Linked DNA regions of Homo sapiens: region 1 is linked to region 2. A link means that fine-mapping ties the variant in region 2 to the expression of a gene that starts in the linked region. Tissue or cell type: lymphoblastoid cells. Region 2 holds a variant in brackets; the other region holds the start of a gene. All regions are shown on one strand. Distances are from middle to middle.

Region 1 (4,213 bases), 860 kb after region 2:
CGCCCAAGTGATAGACGGGACGAACCAAGCTTGCTTTCACTGGGTAATTGTTCTCTTTTCTTCCTGCTCTCTTCTGCCCACACGGGGTGCCCGCAGATTTAAAACGCTATTAAGGGGCATCGGGCTGCAGAACCTGCTTCCGATGTGGAGCATGCAATTTGCCTATAGCTCTTCTCTCCGCACCACATACATAAATCCAACTGCAGCCCAAGACCCCAGGATGAAGGTGTCTTCCATTTCTACCTCCCTTTTATCAACCACCCTGGAGTCACTGCCTGACAAATGACTCAAAACTGAAATAGCTGCCAGGCCGGAAAAAGACTGACTACGTCAACCTTCACAGGCACAGCTTGTGGACCCAAGAGCCTCCGGTCTTGGGACACCAAATGGACCCTGAGGTGGGGTAGACTTTGTGTCCTACTCTTCCCCAGACCCCCACGCAAGCCTTCACCAACATGCCAGGAATCCTCACAGCTCAGATCAGCACACTGAGCATCAGTTCCTCCTATGAATGGGGAGACTGGGACCCAGGGTCCCAGAGGGCTTGGCCCCATAACGGTCACTGGAATCTGGTCCAGGATACAGACCGTGGAATCCTGCCTCCTCTCCTGGTGCTACTGCTAACTTCCTTCCCTTCCTCTCTCTATTGGGCCGATAGAGTGGAACCAAATGGTCCAGACACCTGGCATTCTCTGCCCTGACTACCGAGGAGAGTCAAAGTCCAGCCCGCCTTCCCCAAGGTCAAATTCACCGGGATCCAGCAGGACCCAAGAGCGTCCAGATTAAATCTGCAGGGGCCTGGGTCCGCCCCCTCACCCACAGTTCGTTGGGTCAGGCCTCTAGAGAGATGTTTCTTTGTTCAAAGACAATGGGAATGCACTTTGGGGGCTTAGAGCAGCAACACAAAAAAAGTATCTGGTATCTCCCGGGCACAATCCCCCAAGAGAAAAGCTTCTAAAGCAACTACGAAAGAGACAGGGGGAGTGGGGGCGTAACATCGCGCGGTGTGTCTCGGAGCCAGGGCAAGTGTGGTAATTAGAGTCAGGCTAGAGGGCTTGCTCTGGACCTGCCAGTCTGGCCGCCACCCAGGTGGACAGGTGGGTGTGCCTTTGAGTGCGACCTTTCTCTGCCGCTGGACAGTTCTGCAAACCGAAACGAGGGACCCTGGCAGGCGGAACGTGAACGGCTCGGGGCTCCGCGGCCAGGCCCGCGCAAACCCTCCCCTTGTGAACCCCGGGCCCTCGCTCTGCGCCAGGCAGGCAGCCATCCGGCCTGGGCGTCCAAGGCGCGGGGCATCGCCGCTCGCGTCCTCAAAGACAAGCAGTCTCTCTTTCCAGGATCAATAGTAATTTTTTAAAAAAAAGAGTCTGCGGACTCAATGAATCAACCACTCCCTGGGGAAAGAGTAGCGGCTCCCGCGCGCAACATCCATTTGCCAAACAATTCATTCCCTCGCGCAGAGCTCTCGGCGAATTCCCTCGCGGAGCCGCGGGGTGCCGGCCGGCCGCCGCTCCCCACCATTGTCCCAGGGCCCCGGCCCCAGCCGCGGGGCCCCCTCCCGGGACACGTAGTCCCGCGGGGGCTCCGAGCGCTTGGTCCCGGCCCGGCCCGGGGTGGTGAGTCCCCAGCGCAGGGAGCGGGGGCGCGGGTGCTGCGGCCAGAGCACGGCGTCCCCGCCCGGCCTGGATACTCACTGCCGGAGACGATCCCCGCCGCCGCCGCCGCCTCAGAGACCACTCCCGGCAGCCCGCGCGAGCTCAACAGGCTCCGCCGCGGCTCCCGTCGGCCGGCTCTCCACAGGCAAAAACGCTCTCGCTGCGATACAGCCTAGGCGCCGCCAACAAACTAGTTTCTCCGGCCTTCCCGCCCCGCCTCCCGGCCCGAAGAGCAGCAGCCAATCAGAGGCATCGCCTCTGTGACGGATGGGCAGCCGAACCCTTCAGTGCAGCCGCAGAAAAGAAGGGGGTGGGCCCCAGGCCGCGCCGGCACCGGGGGGTGGGGGGCCGGGGGCGGGGAGGGGGGGGGACCGGGGGCGGGGCGGGGCGAGGAAAAGGACTTCGACCAGATTCTTAAAGAGACAGGCGCCTGCCCAACCCCGCCGCCCAAGTTTGGGAACAAAACGCGACGGTGTTCTAGAGCTTTCCAGAGGGAGCACTGTAGATTGCATATGCCTCTTTTGTGTTCGGGTCACAAGTGTTGTAGATCTCTTTAGACTCTTCAGAGCCACACTAGTAGTTGCCCGAGTGTTAATGAAACCCTGTCTTTCACTCTGGGCTTGTTTGAATGTTTGGGACTTTCTGCAGCCTCCAAACCCCACCTGTACTTGAAATCTGTATTTTTTGGAGTATTTCAGCTCTCCTCTCTGTGTCATTTCTCACTAAACTCCTTTCGTAAGCCAGCCTTTAAATGTTCGTTCATTCATTCATTCATCCATCCATCCAATAATTTCTTCCAGGAACGTTTCCTGGACGCCCACACCATGCACTCATCTTGGAGGGGGAGAACGGTTTGTGATTCTTCGTCCTTTTCCCTCCTGACTACTACTTCAGCTTACTGTGTGTGTCCAATCTCATCCGTAAAGCGGCAGATAAAAACTCCTCATCGGATTATTTGGGGGATTAAAGGAGACAAATTCCCAGACAAATGAGTGCGCAATAAATGTCCTCTCTTTTCTCCCTCCCAATGAAAATCGATAATTCAAGTAGGTTGCTTAAGGATACAAAAGGTAAAGCATAGAAAGTGATAAGAACGAAAGAGCCAAGCCTGGGGCGGGGAAATTCCCAGGAAGCAGAGGTCACCCTGACGGAGGTGGAGGTGGGAGGTGCAAGGAAGGTCTAAGAAAGTGTACAAAGATTTGGGAGAGGGGATAGGATTGTGACTAGTGGAACCTGGGAAATAGAGCCCCTGGGTAGAAAGCTGCTTAGACAGGACAGATATGCCAGGGTTAAAAGACTGGGAGATGATGAGAAGATACCACCAGGGAAGGCATTTTTGGGAAACAGCTTGATGTTCTGGGTTTGAAGCCCCGCCCTGCCCCTCAAGAGCTGGGTAGGACTGAAGCAGATGGCTCAGACTCTCTGGTGTCTGGTTCTTACTGGTGAAGAGGATTCTAAAACCTTTCTTGCAGGGGTATGGGAAAGATTAAGATAACATATGGAATAGGCCTGGCATGTAGTAAGTGCTCAGTACAGATTTGTGCTTCCATTTGGCCCAGATCTGCAGACATCTAAGGCACCAGGGTTCTGATATTTATGAACAATATTGGCCAGAGGTAAGAAGCTTGCCAAGTGCACTGTTAAGGTGCCTTCTGAAGAGAAAAGGTAGTGAGAGGTGAAGCCAGCTGGACTTTCTGGGTCCAGTGGGGACTTGGAGAACTTTTCTGTCTTACAAGAGGATTGTAAAATGCACCAATCAGCGCTCTGTATCTAGCTAGAGGTTTGTAAAATGTACCAATTAGTGCTCTGTAGAAATGCACCAATCAGCACTCTGTGGCTAGCTAGAGGTTTGTAAAACGGACCAATCAGCACTCTGTAAAATGGACCAATCAGCAGCACATGGGCCTGGACAAATAAGCTAATAAAAGCTGGCCGCCCCCCAGCCAGGAGCAGCAACCCACTTGGGTCCCCTTTGGCGCTGTGGGGGCTTTGTTCTTTCGCTCTCCACGGTAAATTTTTCTGCTGCTCACTCTTTGGGTTCACGCCACCTCTAAGAGCTGTAACACTCACCGTGAAGGTCCGCAGCTTCATTCCTGAAGTCAGCGAGACCACCAACCCACCGGAAGGAACCAGCTCCAACACATTAGCATCAAAGTAATTACTTCATTAAGGAAATGACAGAGATCACATTTGTAGTTTTATCCTGCCGATTTTCTAGCACTAGAGTGTTTATAGAATTGTTGGTTGAATGAAGCTCCACATGCAAAATTGATTCTTGGCAAGTTTATAACTGTTGCTTATTATTTTATGCAGGTTCGCTGTAAAATTATAAGTGCCAACCGCCCAGTAAAATCTGGTCCACATTATAATTTTTTCTCTCTTCAACTCCAAGGCTTAAATTAGGTACTAGAATATATTAAAATCAAATACAGTGTAAGCAATGGGACAAAATCAGACTAAGAACACGTGTGGAGTTAATCGAATTTAGGTACGATTTGAAAGAAGATGAGAGGAAGAGCGGAAGTTTGCCTTGCCATCTATTGCGGACCCTGGAGCAT
Region 2 (4,213 bases):
TGTGACCACAACTGGGTCACCCAGGGGACAGTGTGCAGGAATGTGACAACTGCAGGGTGTGTTCTCTGCCGTGACTCAGGTTTACAAACCAGATGTAATCTACAAGTCAGAGGAAGGGTCAGGGTCCTGCCTGGTGGAGGGAAAATCCCAAGATTCCAGGTGTGGCACCATCCCAGCTGGGGCTGAGCAACTGAGGAGGAAGCAGGGGAAGTCCCAAAGCCCAGCCCAGAAAGTCCAGAGAGGACACCTGCCCCAAGTGGGTTTCATCCAGCAAGGGGCAGGGGCCCAGGCTTGCACACCCAGTGTCCACACAGGGCCCTGGGGAGGTATCAGGCTGCTGCCAATTCTTGTTCACATTTTAAGAAGTTTTGTCGATCTTTAAAAAGAAACAACTGGGGTTTAGAAAAAGAAGAAGGACACAATACCTGGGATTCAGAGCCTGAGAGGGTCTCCAGCCTGGCTTCTCAGCAGCAGGCCTGGCACTTCCCTGAGATGGTAATGAGGGGTGCCCACGATCTGCCCTCTGCTTTTTTTTTTTTTTTTTTTTTGAGATGGAGTCTCACTCTGTCGCCCGGGCTGGAGTGCTCAGCTCACTGCAACCTCTGCCTCCTGGGTTCTACCCATTCTCGTGCCTCAGCCTCCCAAATAGCTAGGATTACAGGCACCCACCACCACACCAGGCTAATTTTTGTTTTTTTTTGAGATGGAGTCTCGCACTATTGCCTGGGCTGGAGTGCAATAGTGCGATCTCGGCTCATTGCAACCTCCGCCTCCTGGGTTTAAGTGATTCTCCTGCCTCAGCCTCCCGAGTAGCTGGGATTACAGGCACACACCACCACACCCGGATAATTTTTCTCTATTTTTATTAGAGATGGGGGTTTCACTAAGTTGGCCAGACTGGTCTCGAACTCCTGACCTTGTGATCCTCCCACCTCGGCCTCCCAAAGTGCTAGGATAACAGGTGTGAGCCCCACGCCCGGCCTAATTTTTGTATTCTTAGTAGAGATGGGGTTTCACCATGTTGGCTAGGCTGGTCTCAAACTCCTGACCTCAAGTGATCTGCCCGCCTTGGCCTCCCAAAATGCTGGGATTACAGGCGTGAGCCACTGTGCCTGGCCTGCCCTCTGCTTTTATCAGCCTGAGTGTCTGTCTTCAACTTACCTCCCTCCTCCTTTTTATTTTTATTTAACACTTTAGAATGCAGTTGGCTTATTACAAACTTTAAGAAGAAACATCTATTTTGCTTTTTGTTTATTAAAAAAAATATTGTTGTGGACATTTTGAGAGATACCAAAACACCTGTAATCCCAGCACTTTGGGAGGCCAAGGCAGGCAGATCACAAGGTCAGGAGATTGAGACCATCCTGGCTAACACAGTGAAACCCCGTCTTTACTGAAAATACAAAAAAAAAAAATTAGCTGGGCGTGGTGGTGGGCGCCTGTAGTCCCAGCTACTTGGGAGGCTGAGGCAGGAGAATGGTGTGAACCTGGGAGGTAGAGTTTGCAGTGAGCCAAGATGGCGCCACTACACTCCAGACTGGGCGACAGAGTGAGACTCCATCTCAAAAAAAAAAAAAAAAAAAAAAAAAATGAAAGAAAAGAAAGATACCAAAATGCAGAAAGAAAAGAAAATCGGCCGGGGATGGTGGCTCATGCCTGTAATCCCAGCACTTTGGGAGGCCCAGGTGGGCAGATCACGAGGTCAGGAGTTCGAGACTAGCCTGGCCAACACGGTGAAACGCCATCTCTACTAAAAATACAAAAATTAGCCGGGCGTGGTGGTGCACACCTGTAACCCCAGCTACTCTGGAGGCTGAGGGAGGAGAATTGCTTAAACCCAGGAGGCGGAGGTTACAGTGAGCCAAGATTGTACCGCTGCACTCCAGCCTGGGCAACAGAGCAAGACTCTGTCTTGGAAAAAAAAATAAAGCAAGAAAGAAAATCACCCCTGGCCCCAGCAGCCAGGGACAGTCAATTCATTGCCATTTTGGTGTATTT[C/G]TTTCTAATCTTTTCATGCGCCATTTTGGAGTTTGTTTCCCCACTGCCCCTAGTTTTGGTTCTTCTCTACCTGCAATGTTGTGGGCCCTTTCCCACTTCACTGTGAGGCCTTGATGACCATCATTTTCAATGACAGCCTGACGACGCTTAGCCGGTCTCCCATTGTTAGATGTCTGAGTTGGTTCTGATTTCCCTGCTTGGTAAATGACACAGTGATAGGGGGAAACGTGTCATATTTCTCTGTGGAAAAGAACAGAGAAGCAAAGGGTTTGGGGTCCCAGTGAAGATAAAACTTCAGGAAGGGAGAATCCCAGGGGCTGACATTGCTCTGCCATCTTGCTGGGAGTGGTTTTCACAGCGTGGCTCCCAGAAGGAGACTGAGGGTCAAACGGTGGCTGTCATAGAGGCAGATTTCCTGAGAAGGAGTTCTCAAACTGCAGGACTGGATGTGATGGGTTGGCTTGCAGTGGTGAGTTCCCCGTCACAGTAAGCATTCAAAGAGAGAGCCTAGAGAGGGAGTACCTTCCTACGCTAGTACATACCTACACTAAGGTGGAATTGGTTTAGCTCTTAAATCCATTTCATTTCAACTCTTAGGTTCTAGAGCTTTGTCTGAAAGCATTACAAATTCCTCCACTAAGGGGGAAACCTCAGCTAACGGGGATTAGTGGTCAACAGTGACAGCCTAAAAAGGAAGAAAGAACCTTGAACTTGGAGCCAAAAGATGTGATAGGCTCTAATTCCTTCTCTTCCTTTATTTTGGGAAGCCATATTTAATCCTTTGGAGTCTCAGTTTTCTTGTCTGTAAAATGAAGATAACAATATTTGTCATTCCTAACTTAGGGAGCACCAGGAAGAAATAGAAGGTCCTATACATATAGCCTGTGACCTTCTACACATAAAAGGTATTATTATTATTAGTGATGACAGCAGTTATGACAATGAGGACATATCAGTGGGACAGACTACACATGTGCCCTTGCTGCCCTGGGCCGCACTCCTTGGTCGCCAGCATTTCTTCTGACTGTCCACCTAGAACCTGCACTCTCACTCTTGCAGATCGATGCCACCTCGTTGATTGCAGCCTCTGTGATGGCTGCCCCTTGTGCCTTGGCCCTCTCCAAGCTGGTCTACCCGGAGGTGGAGGAGTCCAAGTTTAGGAGGGAGGAAGGAGTGAAACTGACCTATGGGTGAGCACAGCAGGAGGTCCTGCAGACAGGGTAGTGGTACAAGGTGGGGGGAGCAAAGCAGAGGGTCCCGTTCTCTCTGTCCATCACTGTCTTCCACTAGCCTGGGCCCATCTCTCCACTTTTCCTGCTCTGGTTTGGGCTTCATTTGCTGTCTTAGTCCATTTTCTGTTGCTTATAACAGAAATCCTGAAACTGGGTACTTTATAAAGAATAAGAATTTATTTCTTACAGTTATGGAGGCTGAGAAGTCCAAGGTCGAGGGGTTGTATCTGGCGAGAGCCTTCTTGCTGCTGGGGATTCTGCAGAGTCCCAAGTTGGCACAGGGCATCACATGGCGAGGGGTTGAGGGGTGCCAGGCAGGGAACTGAGCATGCTAGCTCAGATCTCTCTTCTTCTTCTTAAGAAGCCACCAGTCAAGTCCAGGTGCGATGGTTCATGCCTGTAATCCCAGCACTTTGGGAGGCTGAGGCAGGCAAATCACTTAAGGTCAGGAGTTCAAGACCAGCCTGGCCAACATGGTGAAACCCCATCTCTATTTAAAATACAAAAGTTAGCCAGGCATAAAGGCTCACGCCTGTAATTCCAGCAACTTAGGGGGCTGAGGCACGAGAATTGCTTGAATCCGGGAGGTGGAGGTTGCAGTAAGCCTAGATCGCACCACTGTACTCCAGCCTGGGCAACAGAGCGAAACTCCGTCTCAAAAACAAAACAAAAAGCCACCAGTCCTACTCCCATGATAACCCATTATCCCATTAATCCAACATTCAGGAATGGATTCATCCATTCAGGAGGGCAGAGCCCTCATGACCCAATCACCTCTTAAAGGCCCCACCTGTCAATACTGCCACATTGAGGATTAAGTTTCAAAATGAGTTTCCGAAGGACAAACATTCAGACCATAGCATTTGCAAAAATGCGCACTCCAGTTCTCACATCTTAATGTCCAGTCTCTGACCAGCAGGAAACAATGGACCAGGCAAGGCTTGGGAGTGTGGCCTGGTTCTTGGTCTGTGGCCTGGTGTGTG

The links. PIP is the estimated chance that this variant, and not a neighbour inherited with it, causes the effect.
Region 1: it holds the start of KLHL25, and the variant in region 2 is fine-mapped to the expression of KLHL25 in lymphoblastoid cells (GTEx, PIP 0.97).

Annotation. Positions count from the first base shown.
Region 1 is chr15:85,793,072-85,797,284 of GRCh38, forward strand. KLHL25 (kelch like family member 25) reads right to left here and starts at 1,854. Exons shown (of 3, transcript NM_022480.4): 1 at 1,695-1,854. RefSeq lists silencers at 1,525-1,824, 1,975-2,044.
Region 2 is chr15:84,930,088-84,934,300 of GRCh38, forward strand. It overlaps SLC28A1 (solute carrier family 28 member 1), which reads left to right. Exons shown (of 19, transcript NM_004213.5): 13 at 3,058-3,188. Among named protein-coding and RNA genes, the nearest start is that of SLC28A1, 48 kb to the left of the region's middle. The variant C/G (reference allele first, on the strand shown) is at 1,999.